4 linked regions of the Homo sapiens genome follow. The protein of the gene in region 3 interacts with the protein of the main gene of each other region in a biochemical or structural test. Each region holds a gene or a part of one and is shown on either strand. Other genes may lie near its edges.

Evidence for each region.
Region 1: of the proteins of SMURF2 (region 3) and SMAD5, one has a biochemical effect on the other in vitro, tested with the Homo sapiens proteins (one study listed by BioGRID).
Region 2: the proteins of SMURF2 (region 3) and TOP2A form a complex in vitro, tested with the Homo sapiens proteins (one study listed by BioGRID).
Region 4: the proteins of SMURF2 (region 3) and MAVS form a complex in vitro, tested with the Homo sapiens proteins (one study listed by BioGRID).

What each region holds. Positions count from the first base shown.
Region 1 is NC_000005.10:136,170,836-136,177,861, reverse strand, and holds part of SMAD5 (mothers against decapentaplegic homolog 5), read right to left. Parts: intron 5,429-7,026; coding exon 5,207-5,428; intron 3,487-5,206; coding exon 3,230-3,486; intron 526-3,229; coding exon 382-525; 3' UTR 1-381. UniProt on the Homo sapiens protein: Transcriptional regulator that plays a role in various cellular processes including embryonic development, cell differentiation, angiogenesis and tissue homeostasis.
Region 2 is NC_000017.11:40,400,896-40,407,921, reverse strand, and holds part of TOP2A (DNA topoisomerase 2-alpha), read left to right. Parts: intron 1-247; coding exon 248-373; intron 374-979; coding exon 980-1,090; intron 1,091-1,232; coding exon 1,233-1,338; intron 1,339-1,428; coding exon 1,429-1,538; intron 1,539-3,038; coding exon 3,039-3,131; intron 3,132-3,430; coding exon 3,431-3,545; intron 3,546-3,648; coding exon 3,649-3,770; intron 3,771-4,867; coding exon 4,868-5,016; intron 5,017-6,840; coding exon 6,841-7,026. UniProt on the Homo sapiens protein: Key decatenating enzyme that alters DNA topology by binding to two double-stranded DNA molecules, generating a double-stranded break in one of the strands, passing the intact strand through the broken strand, and religating the broken strand.
Region 3 is NC_000017.11:64,659,304-64,666,536, reverse strand, and holds the start of SMURF2 (E3 ubiquitin-protein ligase SMURF2), read left to right. Parts: upstream 1-4,229; 5' UTR 4,230-4,656; coding exon 4,657-4,708; intron 4,709-7,233. UniProt on the Homo sapiens protein: E3 ubiquitin-protein ligase which accepts ubiquitin from an E2 ubiquitin-conjugating enzyme in the form of a thioester and then directly transfers the ubiquitin to targeted substrates.
Region 4 is NC_000020.11:3,849,823-3,856,848, forward strand, and holds part of MAVS (mitochondrial antiviral-signaling protein), read left to right. Parts: intron 1-4,735; 5' UTR 4,736-4,802; coding exon 4,803-4,919; intron 4,920-7,026.

The sequences.
Region 1 (7,026 bases), on a different chromosome or scaffold from region 3:
AACTTACTCTTCACTGTATATGCCCTCTTATAAGCTACTATAATTTTTCATCATGTGATGCATTTTCAAATAAATTTAATAAAAAATTGTTAGGGCAATAAAGTAAAAGCATGTTCCAGTTTAAGATCAATGCCAAATTTCTGAACTGGGGCATAATACTTACTCTGCATCTTTTACAACACTTCTAAGAGTTAATCACATGAACATGAATACAAACAAATGTAGATTCATCACAAAATACAAATGTATTGGTCACAATTATGTAGAAAAAAATAAGCTGTAATATCTGTTTTCAATGTAAGCTCACAGTATCTGTACTCAAAGTTTCTCTAAAATTAAAACAAGTCCACTAACAATATAATTGAAAAGAATACTTCTGCATTATGAAACAGAAGATATGGGGTTCAGAGGGGAGCCCATCTGAGTAAGGACTTTATCCAGCCACTGAAGAGGCCCATGAAGATGAATCTCAATCCAACATGGGGTGCTGGTTACATCCTGCCGGTGATATTCTGCTCCCCAACCCTATGAAAATGAACAGATATCATCACAAATCCCTCTTTAAACTGTCAACCACTCTAAACCAATTTTACCATAAGAAAAAGATAGCTTTTAACAGTAGAGATATGTAGAAGTTACATAAAGAGAATAACTATCACAAAACCAGTCTTAGTATTCACCATGAAATTAAAAGACAACAGCTACATTATTTAAAGATTCATGAATTCTAAAATAATATATAATTCCCTTAAAAGAAACCCTTAGAGCCAGTTATAGTTCATAATTTTTTTTAATCTTAGAAAGGTAACACAGTACAGTATCTCATAATTAAAACAAATATTTCTGATCTGAGATACATTCTCCCTTAATGGGATAAATGCAAAATAGAAAATCACCACTAGAACACCACAGTAATAATTACTGTAGACAAGATATATTGAAGAATGCAAAAATTGTGGGTAAAATATAAAGGAGAAACAGTGTATTTACATAGCCCCAAAGAATCTGCCTGCAAATATTTATAAATACCATTTTCTCTTAATTTCTTTGTAAGACTTAATGACTATTTAAAGGAAAAATTTTAACTGTATTATAAGATATAATGTGCAGATGTAAAATTTATGAATAGCACAAAGAATAAAAGAAGGTAATTAAAACTCTTCAACAGCAAGGTTTTCATATTTTACATTCTAAAAATAGTACAATATTAACTCTAGGTAGATTGGGGTATGTTAAAGATAACGTGGTAATTCCTGGAGAAACCACTAAAAAATGTAAAGAGATGTCACTTAAATACTAATAAAGGAATCATATATAAAAAATCAAAATCAAAATCATAAATAGCCTCATGTAAGATCATGTCACATGTCAGAGTTTCTTTTTTTTTTTTTTTTTTTTTTTTTTGTGAGACAGAGTTTCTCTCTTGTTGCCCAGGCTGGAATGCAATGGCGCAATCTTGGCTAACTGCAACCTCCGCCTCCCAGGTTCAAACAATTCTCCTGTCTCAGCCTCCCTAGTAGCTGGGATTACAGGCACCCACCACCATGCCCGGCTAATTTTTGTATTTTTTAGTAGAGACAGGGTTTCACCATGTTGGCTAGGCTGGTCTCGAACTCCTGATCTCAGGTGATCCACCTGCCTTGGCCTCCCAAAGTGCTGGGATTACAGGTGTGAGCCACCTCACCCGGCCCAGGTTTTTTTTTTTAACGAAAAATTTTTTATTTTCAAGTTGTTTGAATATCAGATAAGGCATTGTAGATATTGATCAATACATGCATGTATAATTTAATGTGGCAGTCACATAGTGATTATCCTTTAAGGTTGGAAATTACTGGGATGAACTGAGCTGAAATCTTTAGCCTAAAACTGCAGATAAAAATTGAAATAGAAATTTTTCACTTTTATTTTCCTGGATTTATCAGGTTCTCTGGTTTACTGCTTATGGTAGTCTTGGCCCAGGAAAACTGGGTTGGGGAGGGAGGGCGGTCAGGGGAGTGAAGAACATTGGGGAGTGGAGATTAAAATAAATATGCAAAAGTCACATTACTGTACAAGAAGGCAGAAATACCTTCAGGGTAACCAGTAAACTGATGTATACAATAGATCTACAGCAAAGTATCATGAAAACACTGGACTGGGGCTGAATACCAAAAAGAAAAAAACCCATGCACAGCGTGTGACAGGTGCTCTTCTTGTGCTAAATTCTTAAGAACCATGTAGATACAGTACAGATTGCTTAAATATGTAGATACAGTACAGATTGCTTAAATACATGACTAAAATTCTTTTCAGATTTTAAGCACAAATCTTTGGAATGTCAATACAGTCAGGTGAAGAGAGTAGATGAAAAACTTGAAAAGTTCCTTTGAACTTTGCAAATCCTTAATATTAAGGTTGGTGGAAAAGTAATTGTGGCTTCTGCCATTACTTTTAATAACAGTACTTAGCTAGGAATGAAATAATTTTAGTATTCTAAAGAATTCTGCCAAGTCACCCTAATGAAATCTAGTAATAATAATCAAAACTGTTGAAGTTAAGAGACTCAAATAGCAATTTTAATATTAAATGCTGATATGATTTGGCTGTGTCCTCACCCAAATCTCATCTTAAATTGTAGCTCCCATAATTCCCACATGTTGTGGAAAGGACCCAGTGGGAGATAACTGAATCATGGGGGCAGTTTCCCCCATACTGTTCTCACAGTAGTGAATAAAGTCTCATAAGATCCGATAGTTTTATAAGGGGTTTCCCCTTTCATTTGGCTCTCATTCTCTCTTGCCTGCCGCCATGTAAGATATGACTTTGCTCCTCCTTCACCTTCCGCCATGATTGTGAGGCTTCCCCAGCCACGTGGAACTGTGAGTTCATTAAACCTCTTTTTCTTCATAAATTACCCAGTCTTGAGTATGTCTATTAGCAGCATGAAAATGGACTAATACAAATGCTTTCTAGAAATTTAGTCTTTTAACTAAAATTCCTTATAATCTCAGCCCCTATTCAATATCAAAATCAATATCAATCATGCATTTTATAATGTCTAGATTACAAAATGAAATCTTAGATCTATTATGTAGTTAAAATTACAAATTCAATAATTTTATTTAAAAACCTGTTAAATCAGGCCAAAAGCAATTATCAACTTTCATTTAACAATTTTTAAAAATTATAACCTAAAGTCATAATATACACATTTATAGTGACTCAAATTATGTTAGAGGTCACAACTCACCTTGACAAAACTCATCCGAATGGTACACATTTTGGTGAGCTCATATACTGCCTCAAACCCATGGTTGACAGATTGAGCCAGAAGCTGAGCAAACTCCTGATTGTTAAAAATTTTGAGGCTGCAGCTGCTGGGAATCTTACAGACAGTGGTGGGATGAAAGCCATGATGAAAGTTGCAGTTCCTACTCTGTACAAATATGCTGCTGTCACTGAGGCATTCCGCATACACCTCTCCACCAACATAGTACAGATGAACACCTTAAAAAGACAAACATCACAAGAGTCAGCTAAAAGAATCATTACAATGAAACCAAATAGACTGTATGGTGCAACAAAAGTACCCATTAATCCACAGCAAACTTCCAGCAGTCTTTAGACAGAAGTTACCACTAGATGGCCTTCTGCTGCCAAAGATAATCAAGAGGTTAATGTCTGCCTGCATCTACAAGAGAAGCCTCAAATAGGCAGCAGATTAAGTTATCCATTTTTAGGTTGTTCTCTTTTTCCTTTCCCAACAATCATTTATCATCTCTATGAGAGAAAGAGAGGGCTAAAAAAAAAAAACCCCAAATCATCTTTTGATGAGTCCTTTCAAATAAATCCTCAGTGCTATCAACTATCATAAACAGTCATTTGACAGACTTTTGCACTCTTTGTGCTAACAAAGAGGACAGCAACACTAAAAAAAAACCAAAGTTACATATATAATTTCAGGTCATAAGAAGAGCTTTGAAATGGCAGATTTATCTTACTTAAAATTTTTTTATATTTAAAAATATATATGTTCCTTTGCAAGATGTGAGGGCAAAAAAAATAAAAATTTTAAAAATATATAAATATGTGGAAATAGTTTTAACATTAAATATTCAAATTATATAACTAAAGCTAGTCACCTAGTATTTTCCCAACATATCCCTCCACCACCCCAAAACTAACCCATGAAAGAAAAGGTCCTAGAACTATATGCTGGGGAAAAAGAAAAAACTGATTCTAGAATTTCAAAATTCACAAAATAGATTTCCCTTAAATTACTTCTACTGTGATGGAAGAAAAAAAAAATCAATGCCTAGAAGTGAGGCACTTCACTGAAAAAACTAAGGCAAGTTGGCAGTAAACTCAAGACAATGAAAACTTTGTTTCGTAACTTATTTTTGGCCGCAGGATTTTTTTGAATCACTTCTATAAGAAATCCTATCACAATTATATTTATTTACCTTTTATTCCTATTTTGGACCAAGATGCCCTCAAGTTAAAGAAGCAAAATGCAGCAAGGGGTAAAAACAAAACTTCTCAAGAAACAGGCAATACACTTTACCTGGGATGGGTTTCCTTCCTGATCACTTGATGCATGAGACTTTGACATTTTATTGCAGTATGAAAAGGGCCCGGTTTGTTATGGCAACTATCTGCAGGATGAATTATTAATAAAACCTTATTGCCTAAATTTAAAAGATGGGAGCAGTGGTGGTGAAGCCACTGGAGTATCATTCACACTAGATTTCCCATTTCTAATTCCGCTCCTCTCACATCATGGTAACACTTACAAGTCATCTCAACCCAAAATACTCCACAAATACCTTAATTATAAAATTCTAATCCTTCACCAGCATTCATACACAATATTCCATAAATATGTGTTGTGTATTTACAATGAGGCACTCTTCTAGCTACTGGGGATACTGCTGTGAACAAAGCAAGTTCCTGTACAGCTTATGTTCCAGTCAGGGTAACACTCAAAAAACAAAGTGGTAGTATGATTTCAGATCCTTAGCACTGGGAAGAAACACTAAGCAGGACAAAAAAATGAGGGAACATCATGTCTTTATTTGATTAATACATTCTTCAATATCGGCAACTTAAGGCAGAGGCCACGTGTCAAACTTCTTTGTATGTTTCTAGCACCTTTCACAATGCATGGTTCATGGCAAGTACAACAAATGATTGAATTCGATTAAATGTAGGAAAATGACAAGATTACCTTTTCCAATATGTCGCCTAGTGTTTTCAATTGTCGAATTACGATTAACATTTGACAACAAACCCAAGCAGAATCTACTTTTGTTATTTGAAGGATCTGTGAATCCATCTACTAACACACTAGTAGAAGATGCATGAAAAGCTTCTCCAACACGATTGTTTAATTCATAGTAGACTATTGAACACCAATGTTTAGGCTCTTCATAGGCAACAGGCTGAACATCTGTGAACAAACCAGACACAGAAAGAGTTTAATACATATCAGAAACTCAGATTGTCCATGTGTTTATCTTTTAACCCAACCCAAGTATTACATGAAAAAGAAAATTTTCAGATATTTCACAAGTCTCACTGTCCTTCCTAGCTGTGAATCTATATCCGAAAACAAGCACTAGAAATCAGCTTGAATATGACAATTTAAAAAGTTATAGAAATACCAGGATCGGCAATAGTCGTAGCTTGCTCAGGCTATAAAATACCGTAAGGCTGAGTGGCTTAAACAACAGAAATTTATTTCTCACAGGTCTGGGGGCTGGGAAGTCCAAGATCAAGGTGCCAGAAGATTTGGTAACTAGTGAGGACCTGCTTCCTGGCTTGCAGACAGCTGCTTTCTCACTGTGTGCTCATATGGCCCCTCCTCAGTGCATGCTCTTAGAGAAAGATCTGTTTCTTTTCCTCTTCTTATAAGGGAACTAATCTCATTATGACAATCCCACTCTCAAGCCTAATTATTTCCATCTTCAAATACCATCACACTGGTAGTTAGGACTTCAACATATGAATTTTAGGGAGATTCAATATGGTCCATTAGCATTCCACCCCAGCAACCCAAAATTCACATCATTCTTACATGTAAAATACACACATATATTCTATCCCAACAGCCCCTGAAGTCTTAACTCATTTCCACATCAACTCTAATGTTGTAAACCCAGTATCATCCAAATATCATCTACATATGACATACGAGACTTGAGGCAAAATTCCTTTCCAGCTGTAAACCTATGAAACCAGGTAAGTTACGTGCTTATGGTGGGACAGACACAGGATAGACGTTCCCATTCCAAAATGGAAAAACAAAAAATAAGGGAGTGATGATGGGTCAAGGAAGCTGAAAACCTAGCAAAGCAAATTGCATTAGGCCTTAAGGCTGGAGAATAAACCTCTTTGGTTTGATGTTCTACCCTCCCAACCCTCTGGGTGGAGTGAGGAGGTGCCCAGGCCTTGGTTCAAAACATGAATTTTGGGACGACACAATTCAGAACATAGCAGCAACAACACATTTTTAATTGTTTTTCTAACATAAACTAATTCAGGTTTAAATTTGAGACAAAAAATTCTTTTTCAGAGACCTGAAGGATTTAACTATAATCAGTATCTGTAAAATTATTTTAAACAAAAAAGTTAAACTAAAAAACTAAGTGAGACTCAGCAAATTAGGAATAGAGGGGAACTTCCTCAGCTTGATACGGAACATCTACAGCTAACATCATACTTAATGGTAGGAAACTAGAAGGTTTTCTGCTAAGATCAAAAACAAAGCAAAGATGCCTCCTCTCCCACTTTTCAACATCATACTGGAAGTCCTTGCTAATGCCATAAATAAATAAAAGGTACACAGATAGGAAAGGAGGAAATTGTCTTTGTTTGCAAATTACATGATTGTCTATGTAAAAATAAGAAAGAACTGACCAAAAAATTCCTGGAACTAGTAAGCATTATAGCAAGGTTGCAGGATACAAGGTTAATAAGCAAAAGTTGATTGCTCTCCTATACAGCAACAATAAACAAATGAAATTTAAAATAAAAAAATTATAATTT
Region 2 (7,026 bases), about 24 Mb from region 3:
CAAGACTTTATGCTTATATTTAATTCCCTCATTAGGCATTTTAAAATATATTTTAGACAATTTGTGCTTATTTTGAGAAATTAGGTACATTGTAGCCTATTTTAACAGACCTTTCTGATGTAGTAAATTATAAGCTAATAGCTCAAAATACTGGAGCTCAAGAAAATCCAAGCAACATATACTGTTAAATTTCTTTGTTCTTTTCAAATTTATAAACGATGCTTTTTTTGGTATATGTCCATTTCAGATCATGGAAAATGCTGAGATTAACAATATCATCAAGATTGTGGGTCTTCAGTACAAGAAAAACTATGAAGATGAAGATTCATTGAAGACGCTTCGTTATGGGAAGATAATGATTATGACAGATCAGGTCAGATTTGTTATTAAATTTTTAGATTGTTCAACTAAATTAAGCATGTCTTAATTTAATTTCATTGTTTTTTGCCATGAAAATAAATTAGTTAAATAGGAGCTTTATTCATCATCTCTAATCAACATCTAATCAGATATGCTTATATCATATGTATGTTGCAAATACAGGTTAAGTGAGTCTGGATTTGAACAGACCTTTTTTGATTCCCATAGAAAATTTGACAAATTGCCAGTAGGTCAGTCATAATATTTTTTTATTTCTAAACAATTCTTTGTTTGTTTGAGATGGAGTTTCGCCCTTGTCGCCCAGGCTGGAGTGCAATGGTGCAATCTTGGCTCACTGCAACCTCCGCCTCATGGGTTCAAGCGATTCTCCTGCCTCAGCCTCCCGAGTAGCTGGGATTGCAGGCGGATGCCACCACACCCAACTAATTTTTGTATTTTTAGTGGAGACAGGGTTTCACCATGTTGGCCAGGCTGGTCTCGAACGCCTGACCTCAGGCGATCCGCCTGCCTCGGCCTCCCAAAGTTCTGGGATTACAGATGTTAGCTACCACGCCCAGCCTAACAGTTCTTTTGAACTTTGGCTTTCAAATCTTTCTAGGACCAAGATGGTTCCCACATCAAAGGCTTGCTGATTAATTTTATCCATCACAACTGGCCCTCTCTTCTGCGACATCGTTTTCTGGAGGAATTTATCACTCCCATTGTAAAGGTACGCTAATTTCTAAGTACCATCATGGATATTTTAAGACCCTACTCCTCAAACCTGGATATACATATAAGCCCCGTCACATGTAGTGGTATACAGGGGACCCCACAGTGTACAAAGCCACAGTCATTGTTTTTTATCACAGGTATCTAAAAACAAGCAAGAAATGGCATTTTACAGCCTTCCTGAATTTGAAGAGTGGAAGAGTTCTACTCCAAATCATAAAAAATGGAAAGTCAAATATTACAAAGGTTTGTAATGAAACCCATATAGAACTTCTCATTTTATTATACACCCTGTACAAGACTATATGAAGGAACTTGGTATTTTTGGTTTTATAGGTTTGGGCACCAGCACATCAAAGGAAGCTAAAGAATACTTTGCAGATATGAAAAGACATCGTATCCAGTTCAAATATTCTGGTCCTGAAGATGATGCTGCTATCAGCCTGGTAGGTTTGAGTTGTATTTTATATACATTCTAATTTTAGAAATCACTACTTTAGCCAGTTGAAACATTTACATTTTTGTATAAGACTCCGTATCAAAAAAAAAAGAATGTTTTATAGAATAGAATGTTTCCAGTAAGCATATCCCAGAGAAGGAATCAGATATTTTAGAAAATTTTGATTTTTGGCTGGGCTTGGTGGCTCATGCCTATAATTCTAGGACTTTGGGAGGCCAAGGCAGGTGGATCACCTGAGATCAAGAGTTGGAGACCAACCTGTCCAACATGGTGAAACCCCCTCTCTACTAAAAATACGAAAATTGGCCGAGCGTAGTGGCTCACGCCTGTAATCCCAGCACTTTGGGAGGCAGAGGCGAGCAGATCACAAGGTCAGGAGATCAAGACCATCCTGGCTAACAAGGTGAAACCCCATCTCTGCTAAAAATACAAAAAATTAGCCGGCCGTGGTGGCACGCAGCTATAGTCCCAGCTACTTGGGAAGCTGAGGCAGGAGAATCGCTTGAACCCGAGAGGCAGAGGTTGCAGTGAGCCGAGATCAGGCCACTGCTCTCCAGCCTGGGCAACAGAGTGAGACTCCATCTCAAAAAAAAAGGAAAAAGGCCAGGCGTGGTGGCTCACGCCTGTAATGCCAGTACTTTGGAAGGCTAAGTCGGGCAGATCACAACGTCATGAGATGGAGACCATCCTGGCTAACACGGTGAAACCCCGTCTCTACTAAAAATAAAAAAAAATAAAAAATAAAAAATTAGCCGGGCTTGGTGACACGCGCCTGTAATCCCAGCTACTCCGGAGGCTGAGGCAGGAGAATGGCGTGAACCCAGGAGGCGGAGCTTGCAGTGAGCTGAGATGGTGCCACTGCACTCCAGCCTGGGCGACAGAGCGAGACTCTGTCTCAAAAAAAAAAAAAAACAAAAAAGGTCGGGCGCAGTGGCTCACACCAGTAATCATAGCACTTTGGGAGGCCGAGGCGGGTGGATCACCTGAGCTCGGGAGTTCAAGACCAGCCTGACCAACATGGTGAAACCCCATCTCTACTAAAAATACAAAATATTAGCTGGGTGTGGTGGCACGTGCCTGTAATCCCAGCTACACGGGAGGCTGAGGCAGGAGAATCACTTGAACTTGGGAAGTGGAGGTTGTGGGAGCCGAAATCGTGCCATCACATTCCACAAGAGTGAAACTCCATTTCAAAAAAAAAAAAATACAAAAATTAGCTGGGCGTGGTGGCGGGCGCCTTTAATCCCAGGGGCTCAGGAGGCTGAGGCAGGAGAATCGCTTGAACCTAGGACGCAGAGGTTGCAGTGAGCCAAGATGACACCATTGCACTCCAGGCTGGGCAAGAGAACAGTAACTCCCGTCTCAAAAAAAAAAAAAAAGGAAAACAGTATTTTTGTTTTTCTGTTGTTCGTTCTTTGTAGAAGGATATTTTGGAACCTATTAGCCTATTAGTACCAGTGACATCTTTTCATCCTTTAATTTATAGGCCTTTAGCAAAAAACAGATAGATGATCGAAAGGAATGGTTAACTAATTTCATGGAGGATAGAAGACAACGAAAGTTACTTGGGCTTCCTGAGGTAAAAGTTTTAAATATATGCCACAAAATGGATTGTTAGACTGACCTTTTGGTATTGATACTATAGCAAATTAAACTTACTGAATAGTTATTTTAGTAAAAAATTTGATATGATAGAGTTGTGCAGCAGTTAAATTTGCTTTATCTTTAAAACATATAAAATATTTCTGTATTATTCAATATTTTTTAAAGACTTAAGAATTACAGAAATAATTCTTAGTTCTGAAAGGTTTCTGTTTGATTTTTGTGTTGAGCATTGTTTAGACCGGTAGACTCATGTAATACTATTTGGTCCTTCAGGATTACTTGTATGGACAAACTACCACATATCTGACATATAATGACTTCATCAACAAGGAACTTATCTTGTTCTCAAATTCTGATAACGAGAGATCTATCCCTTCTATGGTGGATGGTGAGTTCCAATTTGTTAGTCTGTTTTCATTGTAAGATGGAAATCAAATTCCAAAATTGGTTAAATTGAGGATACTTACGTTTGCTCTTATTTCATTTTAAAGGTTTGAAACCAGGTCAGAGAAAGGTTTTGTTTACTTGCTTCAAACGGAATGACAAGCGAGAAGTAAAGGTTGCCCAATTAGCTGGATCAGTGGCTGAAATGTCTTCTTATCATCATGGTGAGGTAAACACACAATCCATGTTTCCAGAAAGCATTATATCAGAAATCCCTGCAGAGTCATTCTCAAAACAGATTTGGTGAAAGTATAAGCTCATATATTCATAGTAAAGAACAAGTTGGTAAAACCTGTGAAAGAATAAAACTGCTTGCCCTTTGATTTCTGAAAGTAATATTCCTGCAGGGATATTCATAAGTCTGCAAAGGTCTACATTAAAAAATGCTTAGTATGTTTATTATAACTTTGTGATGTCAAAATTTAGACCTCCACTGATTTGAAAATTGTTATAATAAATTGTGACACATGTATGCATGGAATCAGTGCTGTAACTTCAGTAAAACTGTGTGCACTGACACTGAGGAATATCCAGGGTCTATTCTCAGGTGAGGAAAAAAAGAGACAGAACAATAACTAAAAATGTCTACAAGGATATGTTCCAAATTGTTCACTTTAGTTACCCCTGAGAACTGGAAAGGGCAACTTTCACTTTTTATATGTGTCTGAATTGTTTGACTTTACACCAATGTTTTGTGATTACTTTTTGCATTAATTATGTAAAACAGTTTTAAAGAACTAGATTGCCTACAGGTTTCTAGAATTTTAAATATAATGGTTGTCTTGTTGCTTTCAATCAAAATATAGTAGGGATACAATAAATTTTCACCCAACGAACATTTGTTGAATGCCTACCATGTACCAGGTATACAAAAATAAATAAAAATATGTTCCTTATCCCCAAGATATAATAACAATTTAGCCAGAGGGCCAATACACACACAGCTATAGAATAAAGTGATACATGCTAGAATAGAAATGAACACAGCATTGTAACACAAAGGAGGAAATATTTCATTTTGCTGAGGATAAGGAGAAGAACTATGCCTTCAAAGTTGAGTGGGATTTAATAGAAATTGTTGGACGGCAGCCCTAAACTTGGAGCCAGAAGTTGTAGGTTCAAGTACTATTTCTGCCATCTATTAATCTGAGGAAAGTCACTAAACAACTAGACCTCACAAAATGTTACAGGATTATAGTGAGGTTAAGTCATAATGTATTTGTATTAGTAAAAGCCTCAGCTTAATGAATCTTTTTTTCCCCACAGATGTCACTAATGATGACCATTATCAATTTGGCTCAGAATTTTGTGGGTAGCAATAATCTAAACCTCTTGCAGCCCATTGGTCAGTTTGGTACCAGGCTACATGGTGGCAAGGATTCTGCTAGTCCACGATACATCTTTACAATGCTCAGGTAGGTATGCTTTCACTTTCTAGTGACTTGCCATTTCCAGTTTTGAAACAATGTGAGATTTAGTTCACCAAAAATACAAAAACTCAGTTAATCAGAAGATACTGGCATCTAGTGGCAGAGGCCAGGGGTGAGGCTTATACAGGAAAGCCCCCCCATAACAATTATCCAGTGCAACATGTCAATTATGCTAAGGTTGAGAAATCCTGATGTAGAGCTTGGGACTGAGTAAAGGAGACTTTGATTCTTCCTAAATATCACAATTGAAATTTTACTCCTTTACAAGCCTATGGAAAGTATATTATGAATGGTCAATTTTCAGCTGTCATCCCAGTCACCCTTTCAGTGGCATTCAAACAGTTACTAATTGCTCCATCCTTCTTGAAACTCTTTATTTGGCCTCTATGACTGTAGACTCTTCTGGTTCTCTTCTACCTTATTAGCTTTCTCTGCTGGGTCCTTCTCACCTTCCCAACCTCTAAATACTGGCCCATTCCAGGGCTCCTTCATCAGATCTCTTTCCAATGCCTACACTCAATTCCCAAATGATCTCCCATTCATCCGTTCTATACCTTTAAATCTCCAGTCTTGGTCTCTCCCCTGAACTCCCAACTTTTATGTCTGACTGCCCTCTTAACATTTCCCACTTGGATATCTAGTTAAGTATCTCAAACATAAGTCTAAAACCAAATCCTTAGTTTTCCTGTCTCAGTAAATGGAATGCCATGCCATCCTTCTAATTGCTCAGGCTAAAAACCTTGTCACCCTTGACTCCTTTGCTTGATACTTAACATCCAGTTCCTCAGCCAATCCTATAGGATCTGCATTGGAAAAATACTAAGCCACCCCCATCTCATCTAAACTATTGTAACATATCATCTTTTCTTAAAGCAGCCAATTATTTTTTAAAAAATAAGTCACTCTGATTCAGAACCTTCAACTGCTCAGAGTAAAATCTAAAGACCTATTTTAGCTAACCAGACATTATGTGATCCGTGTCCCCACCTTCCATGTCTTTTGATTCCTTCTCATACCATCTCCTCTCCAGCCACACTGTCCTTGGCCTATACTCAAATATACCGAGCACATTTCCTCTTCAGGGCCTTTTACTTACTGGTTCCTTTGCCTGCAACACTCTTTCTCTAGATATCCACATGGTTCAGTCCCTCAGTTTGTTTTTTGTTGTTTTTTTTTCTTTTGAGATGGAGTTTTGCTCTTTTTGCCCAGGCTGGAGTGCAGTGGCGCAATTTCGGCTCATTGCAACCTCTGCCTCCTGGGTTCAAGTGATTCTCCTGCCTCAGCCTCCCGTGTTGCTGGGATTACAGGTACACGCCACCATGCTCAGCTAATTTTATATTTTTAGTAGAGATGAGGTTTCACCATGTTGGCCAGGTTGGTCTTGAACTCCTGACCTCAGGTGATCTGCCTCCCTCAGCCTCCCAAAGTGCTGGGATTACAGGCGCGAGTTACTGCACCTGGCGCCCTCAGTGTCTTTTCTCTGCTCAAATGTTTTCCTATCAGAAACGGCTTAACTTTCCTTAGCACCTCTTCAGTCACTTTCCCACTTTTTCTTCTCTTGTTTATCCCACCACCTAACAAAATATGTGTTAATTGCAAACTTCTACTGGACTGTGAGCTCCTTGAGGATTGAGACTTTATGTCCATGTGCGTGACACATAGCAAGTGCTCAATAAATATTGTTAAATGTATATTAGTCAGCAAGTAAAACCAAGATAATTTTCATGTATAATACATGTCCTTTCCATAAAAGTTAAGTGTGAAATTCAGTATTTTTGTAAAATAACATTCTTTGTTTCTTTTCTTTAGCTCTTTGGCTCGATTGTTATTTCCACCAAAAGATGATCACACGTTGAAGTTTTTATATGATGACAACCAGCGTGTTGAGCCTGAATGGTACATTCCTATTATTCCCATGGTGCTGATAAATGGTGCTGAAGGAATCGGTACTGGGTGGTCCTGCAAAATCCCCAACTTTGATGTGCGTGAAATTGT
Region 3 (7,233 bases):
GAATTGCTTGAACCTGGGAGGCGGAGGTTGCAGTGAGCCGAGATGGCGCCACTGCACTCCAGCCTGGCGACAGAGGGAGACTCCGTCTCAAAAAACAAACAACAACAACAACAACAACAACAAAACCCCAAAAGACCATGCAGTTTACGGATCATTATGCTGTTCCCTCATTTCTTTTTTGTTATTAATGGAATTTAGCAAAGAACATCTTCTGTACTATTACTTATTTTTCAAGAATAGGGCCGGGCGCGGTGGCTCACGCCTGTTATCCTAGCACTTTGGGACACCTAGGCAGGCGGATCACCTGAGGTCAAGAGTTTGAGACCAGCCTGGCCAACATGGTGAAACCCCACCTCTACTAAAAATACAAACATTAGCTGGGGGTGGTGGCAGGTGCCTATAATCCCAGCTACTCCGGAGGCTGAGGCAGGAGAATCACGTGAACTTGGAAGGCAGAGGTTGCAATGAGCCAAGGTCGCACCACTGCACTCCAGCCTGGGTGACAGAGTGAGACTCCAACTCAAAAAATAAAATAAAATAAAATAAAATAAAATAAAATAAAAATGGTGGCTGAATGAATCTCATAGTAATATTTTGATATGTAAAGAATGGTCCTGCTGGGCACAGTGGCTCACGCCTGTAATCCCAGCACTTTGGGAGGCCGAGGAGGGTGGATCACAAGGTCAGGAGTTCGAGACCAGCCTGACCAGCATGGGGAAACCCCCGTCTCTACTAAAAAAAAAAAAAAAAATACAAAAATTAGCCAGGTGTGGTGGTGGGTGCCTGTAATCCCAGCTACTCAGGAGGCTGCGGCAGGAGAATCACTTGAACCCAGGAGGTGGAGGTTGCAGTGAGCCGAGATTGCACCACTGCACTCCAGCCTGGGCAACAGAGTGAGACTCCGTCTAAAAAAAAAAAAAGAATGGTTCTGTTTTCATGTCCAATGCTATTTTCCTTTCCTCAAAGACTTTTACACCTGAATGTATATAATTGATTTTACCTAAGATTCCCATCCCTTAATTTTCCGTCTTATCTTTCCCAAGTTCCGGCTATTAATTTGGTAATTCCCTACATGTTGTCATTATAATGTATATATATCCCCCTTTGGGGACATAAACATATCCCCAAGGGAAGAGAAACACATAAACTTTTTTGTTTTTTTAAACTTTCTAACCCAATCGTCTCTGAAATCTGAGCCTGGACTAGATGAGGCCACTCACTTAAGAGAGGCCTTCAAAATGACTTTCCTATTATGAGTATTCTGTTTTTGAGTGCATTTGTTTTTTGAGGTAGGGTCTTACTCTGTTGCCCAGGCTGGAGTGCAATGGCATAATCATGGCTCACTGCAGCCTCAACCTCCTGGGCTCCAGTGATCCTCCCACCTTGGTCTCCCGAAGTGTGGGGATTACAGGTGTTAGCCACCACGCTCTGCCCCTGTTCTATGTTTTCATTTATTTTACTTCATTTTAAACATTTAGTTACTTTTAAATAAATGTTTACAGTCAATGTCAATATTTAAGATGGCAAGGAAAACAATAAAATGAACATCCATGTACCTGCTTAAAAAAATCATTACCAGTACATTGATTTTCTTTTTATTTTTGTGATAGTCTCAGTATGCTGCCCAGGATGGAATGCAGTGGCACTGGAATGCAGTGGTGTGATCACGGCTCACTGCAACCTTGACCTCCACAGGCTCAGGTGATCCTATCTCAGCCTCCTGAGTAGCTGGGCCTATAGGTGCAGGCCACCACTCCTGGCTAATGTTTTGTAGATACGGGGTTTTGCCATGTTGCCCAGGCTGGTTTCAAACTCCTGGGCTCAAGTGACTCCTCTGCCTCGGCCTCCCAAAGTGCTAGGATTACAGGCATGAGTCACCATGCCCAGCCCTTGAATGGTTTTAGTGTTATTCTTATCTGAATATTTGTTTTAAACAACAGGATTTAACCTTACAAGAAAGCCTAAATACAAACCTCTGCACGTTAACCCTATATACATTTTTCTATGCTGTCACTTACATTTTTTAATTTACTGCTTTCAACTTCAAAACAAGCAGTCTCCCCCAGGTCTCCCATGACGTTCTGAAATCCTAACTTCTATTACCTAATACAAGGCTACAAATTATGTTAGTTGGGTGGTTGGGAACAAAGCGTGCTGTAAAAATAAGGCAAATGTGTATGTGTACATTAGTTTGCTAAGTTTTTTGCCACTGTCTGCCCTCTTAAATTGTGGTAGCAGCTATTGTTCACATTGATTTCTATATATTTGTAGTACAAGGAAGCATTTCTAAAGGACCTTGTTCATTGCTTTGCACAAAATGGCCACTTAATATTTGTTGAATGAATTGCTGGCACTATCTCTGGTATTTTAATTTTTATTTATTTATGTATTTATTTTTGATATGGAGTCTCGCTCTGTCACCCAGGCTGAAGTGCAGTGGCGTGATCTCGGCTCACTGCAACCTCCCGTGTTCAAGCGATTCTCTTGCCTCAGCCTCCCTAATTGCTGGGACCACAGGCATGCGCCACCAGGCCCGGCTAATTTTTTTGTATTTTTTTTTAGTACAGACGGGGTTTCACCATGTTGGCCAGGCTGGTCTCAAACTCCTGACCTCAAATGATCCGCCCACCTCGGCCTCCCAAAGTGTTGGAATTACAGGCGTGAGCCACTGTGCCCGGCCTATCTGTGGTATTTTTAGTGTGATGTCTAGAACTTCATATACTTTTTTGGATTACTTTTAATTGTAGGGCTGTATCCAAACTGATGAAATGTTCTCGCAGGTAACTATCTGGAGAAGTGAGTTCACTGATGTATTAAAAGAAATGACTGGCATGGAATAAGGATTAAAATATATTAATCCAAAACATTTAAAATTGCATTAATGTTATAATAGCCTAAAGCAAAACTAACGAATCACATAAAAAATCCCCCACGCTATTGTCCTTAGTAGTTTACATTGTGCTAGATACTTTCGCATGTATATGCATACAACTTCTATTCTGTTTTTAAACTTTGCATTACATATACATTCTTCCATATTATATGATCTTCATAAAAATAGTTACATGGCTGCATAAAAAACCATGCGGTTCCTGGACTATTATGCTATTCCCTCATTCCCCTTTTGTTATTAATGGAATATAGCAAAGAACATCTTCTGTACGATTATTTGTCAAGAATAGGGCCGGTGCGGTGGCTCAGGTCTGTAATCCCAGCACTTTGGGAGGCCGAGGCGGGCTGATCGCTTGAGGTCAGGAGTTCGTGACCAGCCTGGGCAACATGGGAAAACCTAAACGTCTCTACTAAACATGTCTCTACTAAAAATACAAAAATTAGTGGGGCGTAGTGGTGCACACTGTGGTCTCAGCTACTCCAGAGGCTCAGGTGGGAGGATCACCTGAGCCCCGGAAGTTGAGACTGCAGTGAGCCGTGTTCGCACCACTGCACTCCAGCCTGGGCGACAGAGGGAGACCCTGTCTAAAAACAAAAAAATAAAAAATAAATTTCTAGCAGTACAGTTACAATGTCAAAGGATAAGGTACACATTTTTTAAAAACTTTTCTCTTTCTCCTCCTGAGATAACGAAATACAGTAGCGTATGAACAACTCTTCATACATTACTCTCCAAGGTTTATCTTGTTAATCCTTTAAGACGTATCATCTCCCCATCCTTGGCTGCACCTGAAAAGAGCGGGAGTCGGCAGGTAACCTGATCTCCTCCACCAGGTGAGTCCCGGATGGAGGTGTCAACTACAAGACCAGGAGCAGAGCATTCCTGGGGTTTTGCTGGAACCATCGGCGTGGGAATGCTTTCTCTTCCCTCGCCCGAAAGACGCCAAGTTCCCGGCAGGCAGCGGACTCGGTTCTAACCTTCCTCGCCCCAGCCTCTCGGAGCGCCCTGCACGCAGTGGGCGTCTAATAAAATGCAGTTGGCCCTGCTTGGACAAAAGTTCTCCCTTAAGTGGCCCGGACAGTAAACCCCTCCAGGTGCCACAGAGCTGCCGCGCCCGCCGCCGCTTTGCTCCCTGCCTGCTCCCTCCCAGCGTTCCGCGTGGGACCCTCGGCGGCAGCTCACACCCTCCCTGACTGCCGGTGCCCGCCAGGGCACCCTGCGCGCGCCCGCCGGCCCCGCCCCGGCCCCGCCCCGCCCCGCCGGCCCCGCCTCCCGTCTCCTCCCCGCCCCCCGGAGCCGACGAGTGGCGGCGGCGGCCCCAGGTCCCGGGTCCCTCAGACAAGAGGGCGGGTGGAGGAGGAAGCGGCCGAGCCCAGAGTTCTGCTCCGGCGCCCCCGAGCACCGCCCGCTTCAGCCGACCAGCCCCGTCGGCTACTGGGCCTCGCCGAGACGAGAGGAGGGAAAGGCCTCGGCGGCCGCGAGGAGGCGGCGGGGGCGCGGGCGGAGGCGGCGCGGGCGGCCGCGGCTGCCGCTTTGTTGTGCGGCCCGGGCCGAGGAAGGAGAAGTGGGAGGAGGGGGGAGCTCGGCGTCCCGCTCCCTCCGCGGCTCATGGCGACGACTCTCGGCACATCCGGGACCCTCCGGCCGTGGCGGCCGAGGCGCCGGCTGCTCGGGCCCCAGCCCCGGCCGCTGTGGTGACTCCGCCGCGCCTCGCCGTCGCCCCCGTGCCGCCCGCCGCCCCCGCCGCCCCCGCCGCCGGGGACATGTCTAACCCCGGAGGCCGGAGGAACGGGCCCGTCAAGCTGCGCCTGACAGGTGAGGGGGGGCGGCGGGCCGGGCTGGGCAGCCGCGGGGTGGGCGAGCTGGCGGGGGGTGCCTGTGGCCTTGGGAAGGGCCAGGGTCGCGATCAATGATGAGTTGGGGGTCGGAGGAATGGGAAGGCCTAGTTCAGGGAGAGTAATTGGAAAACCACTTGCTCTGGTTTGGACATTGTTTAAAAAGCCGAGGATGACTCGGGGCGGGGGGTGGTGTTTTGTGGAGGGGAGAATACACCGGTTCGCATCGCAGGCGGATTTCAGGTCGGAAAGTCTTGGTCAAGGAGCCAGACGCTGCCTCCCGGGGCTCGGGGAACAGCCCCTGGGCTACCGCCCAGGTGAGATCGTGAAGGGGATGAAGAGCTCCCGTGGCGAGGATTATTGAATCCGGTTGCTGACTGCGCGCAGTAAACACTCCTTAAAGATGGAGCGCTTAACGGGAGGGTGTGCGTGTGTGTTCCCGGGTTGTTACCTTGCACACACCCAGTTATGCCCGCATGAAAAACCTTTACTCCCCGCCGCCGGCCACCGCTGCCCGGGCCACACACCTTAAACTCATGTCTCTGAGGTGAGGAGACAGGTTGACTTTTCCGGTGTGCCTGTCTGATCCGACGGCTTGGGCTCATTGTACACTGTGTTTTGGAAGTGTCTGATTGTAGGGTGGCATGTTTGGGGTTGTTCCTTTTAGGCCGCAGAACTTGTGTCTAACTTCTAACGCCAGACCTGCTTTAAAAACACACTTTTTTGGGGGGGGTGCATTGCTAAGTATGTGCTCATACAAACTTTCGAGCAAACTTTCTGTTACTCTCCCCACCCTCCCCATTCCTTTTTCGAAATGGAAAAGAATGTCCGGAGGGGTTGCCAGATAGAAGACTACACTTACAAAGTGTTTATGATTCCAGGTGCATGAAATCTTTAACATTACAGGTACGTTTTGCTTACAGTGCCATTTTTGGTATTCTTACATGGACATGCCACCCCCGTTTTAGGAGAACTTTTATTTGGTTTGTAAAGGAATTGGAATCACGGCGTTATCCTACCTTCACCATTTACCCCTGATAAATTGTCCACGTTTGTATTCGGGTGAGTGGTGAGAAAGATAATTTTCCGTAGAGGATTTGTGTGTGCGTGCACGTGTACGGATAAACTGTAATTATGTTTGCCCACACTAGACTTTGAGATTTATTTGGACTAATTTTGTAGTTAAATGCCTGTGTGTCACATCCCAGTCCACTGGCTGAACTTGCTGGATGAAAACTTGCAGTGAATTTGGTATTTGAGAATTTAGCTTGAATGTATGTTGGCTGCAATTTAAATAATATATTACTTTCATGGCAGTTTTCCTTTCCCTAGGGAAAATTGCAGGGAATCATTAACTGAGTGATTCTTAATGGAAAACCTGGATTGGAGGATACTTGTATTCCACCCCCTCCCCCCTCATTCAGTGTCCTTACATTGGGAGGAGTCAGTGGAAACCTTTATAGGGGATCTTTGTTGCTTTAGAGTTTATCTGTTGCTGTTGCTGTCTGTAGTCAGTGATCGTGGAAAGAACATGTGATCCCAGGTGTGCAGAAAGCATCAGAAATAGGCTGTTTCCATTTACCCTCCTCTGGGCTATGTAGAGAAAATGAGGGAAAAAATTGGGTTTTTGATTTTCTGCAGATAAGGTTAGTTGAGGTTTTTAGTATGACTTAATAGATCTTAAAGTGTTTATCTGTGGTTTCCGTACTGCCTATGATACATTATAAGAATTTATAATTAAAGTTTATTAAGAGGAAAGATTATGCTTATATTTTAGGGGAAGGGGGAATATTGAACTACATTTATAGTGATTTTGTTTCAGGTTTTTCTGAGGAATTTTAAATACCCTGTGTCCTCTTAATAGTAAAAACAGTTTGAGGTACTCTGAGTTTCTTACAACTATTTGTCTCTGAATAGTTTTCTCTTAAAATTTGACAAATATTAAAAACATTGTCCTTCCTTCTTTGGTTACAGTGGAGTCTCTTCTGTTTTGCCAGGAAAGTTAACATATTTTTTCTTCCATTTTTGTTCATCATTTATAAATTAGATGGTATAGATTTTAGCAAATAGATCTCAAGAGCTGGATTCAATTAGCAGCTTTTTAGGACATAAACATTAAAGGGTTAGATGGAAAAGATTGTTTTGACTGACTGGATAAATGACAGGGCTGTGTTTGATGTGCGTCCAGGAATTGGTCTGGAGCTGGTGCCCAACTTCTCAGTCCATCTTGAGAAGCCAAATAAAATATTTAACCTAGGCCTCATTTTGTTTAAAAAAAAAAAAAAAAAAAAAGTTGATTCTTTGTGAAGACCTTAAGAAATGTTTGGCATACCTTTAGACTAAGTGTTTAACAGTTCATTTAGATCTGGGTTGCCTAATAGAGGAAAAAAAATCACTTAAAAAAAGACAGATCCCACAGTGAATTTATATTTGGTTTACAATACACTTGGGCTATAAGGTGTTTTAAAATTATTGTTCTTTGCTTTAAGTTAATACCATATTAGT
Region 4 (7,026 bases), on a different chromosome or scaffold from region 3:
AATATAAATTGGATGTGGCATAGACCTTGTCTCTTTTATTCCCTGCAGCACTCCCTGATGGGGGCGGCAGAAAAGTAACGAGCAAATACATCTATAACTGCAAATTGTGGTAACTCCTACATAAACAACTGGCAGCAATTGCTTATATTTGAGGCACTTAAAAATTTTTAAGCTGGCTGGGCGCGGTGGCTCATGCCTGTAATCCCAGCACTTTGGGAGGCCGAGGCGGGCAGATCACGAGGTCAGGAGATCGAGACCATCCTGGCTAACACGGTGAAACCTGTCTCTACTAAAAATACAAAAAATTAGCCGAGCGTGGTAGCAGGCGCCTGTAGTCCCAGCTACTTGGGAGGCTGAGGCAGGAGAATGGTGTGAACCCGGGAGGCGGAGCTTGCAGTGAGCCGAGATTGCACCACTGCACTCCAGCCTGGGTGAAGGAGCGAGACTGTCTCAAAAAAAAAAAAAAAAAAAAAAAAAGAAATTTTTTTAAGCTGCTGGGCGCGGTGGCTCACGCCTGTAAATCTCAGCACTTTGGGAGGCCGAGGTGAGCGGATCACCTGAGGTCGGGAGTTCGAGACCGGAACATGGTGAAACCCTGTCTCTACTAAAAATACAAAATTAGCGGGGCGTGGTGGCTCATGCCTGTAATCCCAGCTACTTGGGAGGCTGAGGCAGGAGAATCGCTTGAACCCAGGAGGCAGAGGTTGCAGTGAGCCGAGATCGCGCCATTGTACTCCAGCCTGGGCAAAAAGAGTGAACTCCATTTCAAAAAAAAAAAAAAAGGCCAGGCGCAGTGGCTCACGCCTGTAATCCCAGCACTTTGGGAGGCCGAGGCAGGCGGATCACGAGTTCAGGAGATTGAGACCATCCTGGCTAACACGGTGAAACCCTATCTCTACTAAAAATACAAAAAATTAGCCGGGTGTGGTGGCGGGCGCCTGTGGTCCCAGCTACTCGGGAGGCTGAGGCAGGAGAATGGTGTGAACCCAGGAGGTGGAGCTTGCAGTGAGCCGAGATTGCACCACAGCACTCCAGCTTTGGTGACAGAGCGAAACTCCGTCTCAAAAAAAAAAAAAAAAAAAATTTAAGCTTAGAGGCCGGCCACAGTGGCTCAGCACTGTGCAGGCCAAGGCAAGAGGATCACTTGAGGTCAAGAGTTCGAGACCAGCCTGGCCAACATGGTGAAACCCTGTCTCTACTAAAAAATACAAAAATTGGCCAGGCGCGTTGGCTGGCGCCTGTAATCCTAGCAACTTGGGAGACCAAGGCAGGCAGATCACCTGGGGTCAGGAGTTCAGGACCGGCCTGGCCAACATTAAAACATATAAAACCCCGTCTCTACTAAAAATATAAAAATTATCCAGGCATGGTGGCGTGTACCCGTAATCCCAGCTACTCGGGAGGCTGAGGTAGGAGAATTGCTTAAACCCGAGAAGCAGAGGTTGCAGTGAACCGAGATTACGCCACTGCACTCCAGCCTGGGCAACAGAGCGAGACTCTTTCTCAAAAACAACAACAACAACAAACAAACAAATTAGCCAGGCATGATGGTGGGCACGTGTAATCCCAGCTACTCGGGAGGCTGAGGCAGGAGAATTGCTTGAATGTGGGAGATGGAGGCTGCAGTGAGCCGAGATCACACCACTGCACTCCAGCCTGGGCGACAGGGAGACTCTGTCTCAAAAAAAAAAAAAAAAAAAAAAGTTTATAAGGCTGAATTACCGTACTGTCAAAACAAGCTGCTATCTGAGCCGTTTTAAGGGTGAGGAAGTCTGGAAACTGATAACTTGCCCAGGACACACAGTGAGTTCAAGGCATGGAACTCAGTCTCCTATCTTAAGAATGTATGTGGGCCGGGCATGGTGGCTCACGCCTGTAATCCCAGCGCTTTGGGAGGCCAAGGCAGGCAGATCATCTGAGGTCAGGAGTTCAAGACCAGCCTGACCAACATGGAGAAACCCTGTCTCTACTAAAAATACAAAATTAACCAGGTGTGGTGGTGCATGTCTGTAATTCCAGCTACTCAGGAGGCTGAGGCAGAAGAATCACTTGAACCCGGAAGGCAGAGGTTGCGATGAGCCGAGATTGTGCCATTGTACTCCAGCCTGGGCAACAAGAGTCTGGAACTCTGTCTCAAAAAAGAAAAAAAGAATGTATGTGTAGCAGGCTTTTTTTTTTTTTTTTTCCCCCGAGACGGAATCTGGCTCTGTCGCCCAGGCTGGAGTGCAGTGGCGCAATCTTGGCTCACTGCAAGCTCCGCCTCCCAGGTTCACGCCATTCTCCTGCCTCAGCCTCCCGAGTAGCTGGGACTACAGGCACCCGCCAGTACGCCGGGCTAATTTTTTGTATTTTTAGTAGAGACGGGGTTTCACCGTGTTAGCCAGGATGGTCTTGATCTCCTGACCTCGTGATCCACCCGCCTCGGCCTCCCAAAGTGCTGGGATTACAGGCGTGAGCCACCGTGCCCGGCCTATGTGTAGCAGGCTTTAATGGTGGGCCTGCAGCCATGTCATGGAAAGAAGCTGACCTGAAGATCTCAGTTCTTTCTTCTTCTACTAACTAGCAAGCATACCTCAGTTTCTTCTTTAAAGCGGGATGATCCGATTATTATCATGTTGGGGTTCACTTTTTATTTTTTCAGTGTGTCCCAAAGCAGCAGCACGTTTAGGTATAGCCCTCTTGCTATCAGCTTGAGGGCCTTAGAGCCAGGAAGGGAGCCAGGACATTTATAGGCACAGAAACTAGGGTCACATACAGATCCCCCCACCGCATGTGCTAGGGGTACATGCAGACCTTCCCAGTGCTGACCAACCTGCAGAGAAGAAATGGGCCCTAGGTATTCTGGATCTGATTCTTTTTGGTCTTCAATTATTTTTATTTTTATTTTTTTAGAGACAGGGTCTCGCTGTGTTGCCCAGGCTGGCCTCGAACAGCTGGGCTCAAGCGATCCTCCTGCCCTAGCTTCTTGAGTAGCTGGTGGTCATCAATTCATTTTTAGCAAATTCTGCAGAATTTTTTTTTTTTTTTTTTTTTTTGAGACGGAGTCTCACTCTGCCGCCCAGGCTGGAGTGCAGTGGCGTGATCTCGGCTCACTACAACCTCCGCCTCTTGGGTTCAAGCAATTCTCTGTCTCAGCTTCCTGAATAGCTGGGACTGCAGGCGCCCGCCACCATGCTTGGCTAATTTTTTTGTATTTTCAGTAGAGACGGGGTTTCACCATCTTGGCCAAGTTGGTATTGAACTCCTGACCTCGTGATCCATCCGCCTCGGCCTCCCAACGTGCTGGGGTTACAGGCGTGAGCCACCGCGCCCGGGTTCTGCAGGAATTTTGGAGAGACTCAGGCAGTAATAAAATAGGATGTTTACAGAAATTAAAGATGGCGGCCGGGCGCGGTGGCTCACGCCTGTAATCCCAGCACTTTGGGAGGCCGAGGCGGGCGCATCACGAGGTCAGTAAATCGAGACCATCCTGGCTAACCCCGTGAAACCCCGTCTCTACTAAAATACAAAAAAATTAGCCGGGCGTGGTGGCGGGCGCCTGTCGTCCCAGCTACTCAGGAGGCTGAGGCAGGAGAATGGCGTGAACCCGAGAGGCGGAGCTTGCAGTGAGCCGAGATCGCGCCACCGCACTCCAGCCTGGGCGACAGAGAAAGACTCCGTCTCAAAAAAAAAAAAAAGAAATTAAAGGTGGCTGGACACATTGGCTGGTGCTTGTCATCCGAGCTACTTGACAGGCGGAGGCAGGGGGATCGCTTGAGGCCAGGCGTTTGAGACCAGCCTGGGCAGCATCATGAGACCCTGTCTCTAGAAAAAATAAAAAAATTAGCTGGGCATAGTGGCGCAGGTTTGTAGTTCCAGCTACCGGGGATGCTGAGGCGGGAGGATTGCTTGAGCCCACGAGTTCGAGGCTGCAGTGAACTATTATTGCACCACTGCACCCAACTTGGGTGACAGAGACCCCATCTGTTTGTTTGTTTGTTTTTGAGACAGAGTTTCGCTCTTGTTGCCCAGGCTGGAGTGCAATGGTGCAATCTTGGCTCACCGCAACCTCTGCCCCCAGGTTCAAGCAATTCTCCTGCCTCAACCTCCCGAGTAGCTGGGATTACAGGCATGCGCCACCATGCCCAGCTATTTTTTTTTTTTTTTTGTATTTTTAGTAGAGACGGGATTTTCTCCATGTTGGTCAGTCTGGTCTCCAACTCCCGACCTCAGTTAATCCCCCAAATTGGCCTCCCAAAGTGCTGGGATTATAGGCGTGAACCACTGTGCCCAGCCCGAGACCCCATCTCTTAAAAACAAAATAAAACAAAACAAAAACGGCCAGGTGTGGTGGCTCACACCTGTAATCCCCAAACTTGGGAGGCCGAGGCGGGTGGACCACTTGAGGTCAGGAGTCTGTGACCAGCTTGCCAACATGGTGAAACCCCATCTCTACTAAAAATACAAAAATTAGCTGGGCATGGTGGTGCGCACCTGTAATCCCAGCTACTCAGAAGGGAGGCTGAGGCAAGAGACTCAATTGAACCCAGGAGGCGGAGGTTGCAGTGAGCCGAGATTGCCCCACTGCACTCCAGCCTGGGTGACAAAGTGAGACTCGCTCTCAAAAAAAAAAAAAAGAAGAAATTAAAGATGAAAGAAAACAAACATTCCAAAAAGTTGAGAAAGAATTGCCTTTTGTCCAGCCCCACTCCCAACCCCCCAACCCTGTTGTAATGTGTGATCTGTTTTCTTCCAGTCTCGTTTCCTCTCAGTCCATCCACCCTTCATGGGGCCAGAGCCCTCTCTCCAGAATCTGAGCAGCAATGCCGTTTGCTGAAGACAAGACCTATAAGTATATCTGCCGCAATTTCAGCAATTTTTGCAATGTGGATGTTGTAGAGATTCTGCCTTACCTGCCCTGCCTCACAGCAAGAGACCAGGTGAGCAAGGGAAGTGACAGCCCGACACTGGCCTGGGGGCAGGGCTGTGGAATTCAAAGCTCAGCCCCATCCTAGTTCCTCACCCAAGCCTGGGCTGGCTCCTTCCTTCTTCCTCTTGCTGTGTCTTGCTCCTTGTCCTTGCTGCTTTTCTTTTTTTTTTTTTTTTTTGAGATTGAGTCTCGTTCTGTCGCCAGGCTGGAGTGCAGTGGCACGATCTTGGCTCATTGCAACCTCCGCCTCCTGGGTTCAAGTGATTCTCCTGCCTCAGCCTCCTGAGTAGCTGGGATTACAGGTGCGTGCCACCACGCCCAGCTAATTTTTTTGTTTTTAATAGAGACGGGGTTTCACCATGTTGGCCAGGATGGTCTTGATCTCTTGACCTTGTGATCCGCCTGCCTCGGCCTCCCAAAGTGCTGGGATTACAGGCGTGAGCCACCGCACCCTTGCTGCTTTTCTAACTTTTGGATGGAGTGTGGCTCAGGGTGGCGTTGCTGACTTCGCCGAGCTCCCCCTTGTGTTGCTTTTGTGCACTGCTCAAAAATATGGCGCTGGCTCTCTGAGATTTCCTGGCTCTGGTCCACTTGCCCACTTTTTTTGGAACCTCCTATTTCCTTCATCTCTCTTGCCCTTCCTTGTCCTGCTCAGTTTTGATTCCATTCTCCTTGTCATGGGGCCCTGTCCTGGCACGGAGCTGGGACTCAGGTTTGAGAGCTGGCAGGATCAGGGTCGCTCTAGCCCCAACAGAACTTGCTGCAGGCCCCTGGCACTCACTAGCTGGTGAAACGGGCACAACCCCTCCCCGTTGTAGCTGCTGTTCTCAGATTGGACCCCTGTGCTCCAGAGGGTACCTGTTGGCTCTTTTGGGGCCTCCTGTCCTCAGATTTCTCAGGAGCCCCATTGTTGTCTCCGCTGTCCTCCCACACAGATCGCATTAGTATGCAGGTCTGTTTGGAGTTTGCTCCTCCCTCTTGTATTTTGGGGTTTATAGGGATATCTTGTTTTATAGTAAATATTTTCTGTGGGTTTTCTTTATTTTCTTTAAAAAATTTTTTTTTGAGACGGAGTCTCGCTGTGTTGCCCAGGCTGCAGTGCAATGGCATGATCTCAGCTCACTGCAACCTCTGCCTCCTGGGTTCAAGTGATTCTCGCGCCTCAGCCTCCTGAGTAGCTGGGGTTACAGGCGCATGCCACCACACCTGGCTGATTTTGTATTTGTAGTAGAGATGGAGTTTCACCATGTTGGCCAGGCTGGTCTTTATTTTTATTTTTGAGACAGAGTCTTGCTCTGTCACTCAGGCTGGAGTGCAGTGGCACGATTTTTTTTTTTTTTTGAGACGGAGTCTCACTCTGTCGCCCAGGCTGGAGTGCAGTGGTGTGATCTCGGCTCACTGCAAGCTCTGCCTCCTGGGTTCACGCCATTCTCCTGCCTCAGCCTCTTGAGTAGATGGGACTACAGGCGCCTGCCACCATGCCCGGCTAATTTTTTGTATTTTTAATAGAGACGGGGTTTCACTGTGTTAGCCAGGATTGTCTCGATCTCCTGACCTCATGATCCACCCGCCTCGGCCTCCCAAAGTGCTGGGATTACAGGCGTGAGCCACTGCGCCCAGCATTTTTTTTTTTTTTTTTTTTGAGATGGAGTCTCGCTGTGTCTTCCAGGCTGGAGTTGCAGTGGTGCCATCTTGGGTCAACCTCTGCCTCCTGGGTTCAAGCAATTCTCCTGCTTCAGCCTCCTGAGTAGCTGGGATTACAGGTATATGCTACCACACCCGGCTAATTTTTGTGTTTTTAGTAGAGACGGACTTTCACCATGTTGGTCAGGCTGGTCTTGAACTCCTGACCTTGTGATCCTCGGCCTTCCAAAGTGCTGGGATTACGGGTGTGAGCTACCGCACCTGGCTATTTTCCTTTTTCTAAAAATCTAGCTCCTGCAGGATTCTGTGGGTTTTTGTTTCTGCTGTCTGGTTGCTTGTTTTTATGTGAGAATTCAGGTAGACATAAAAACTCTAGGGCTGGGCACGGTGGCTCACGCCTGTAATCCCAGCGCTTTGGGAGGCCAAGGCGGGTGGATCACCTGAGGTCAGGAGTTCGAGACCAGCCTGGCCAA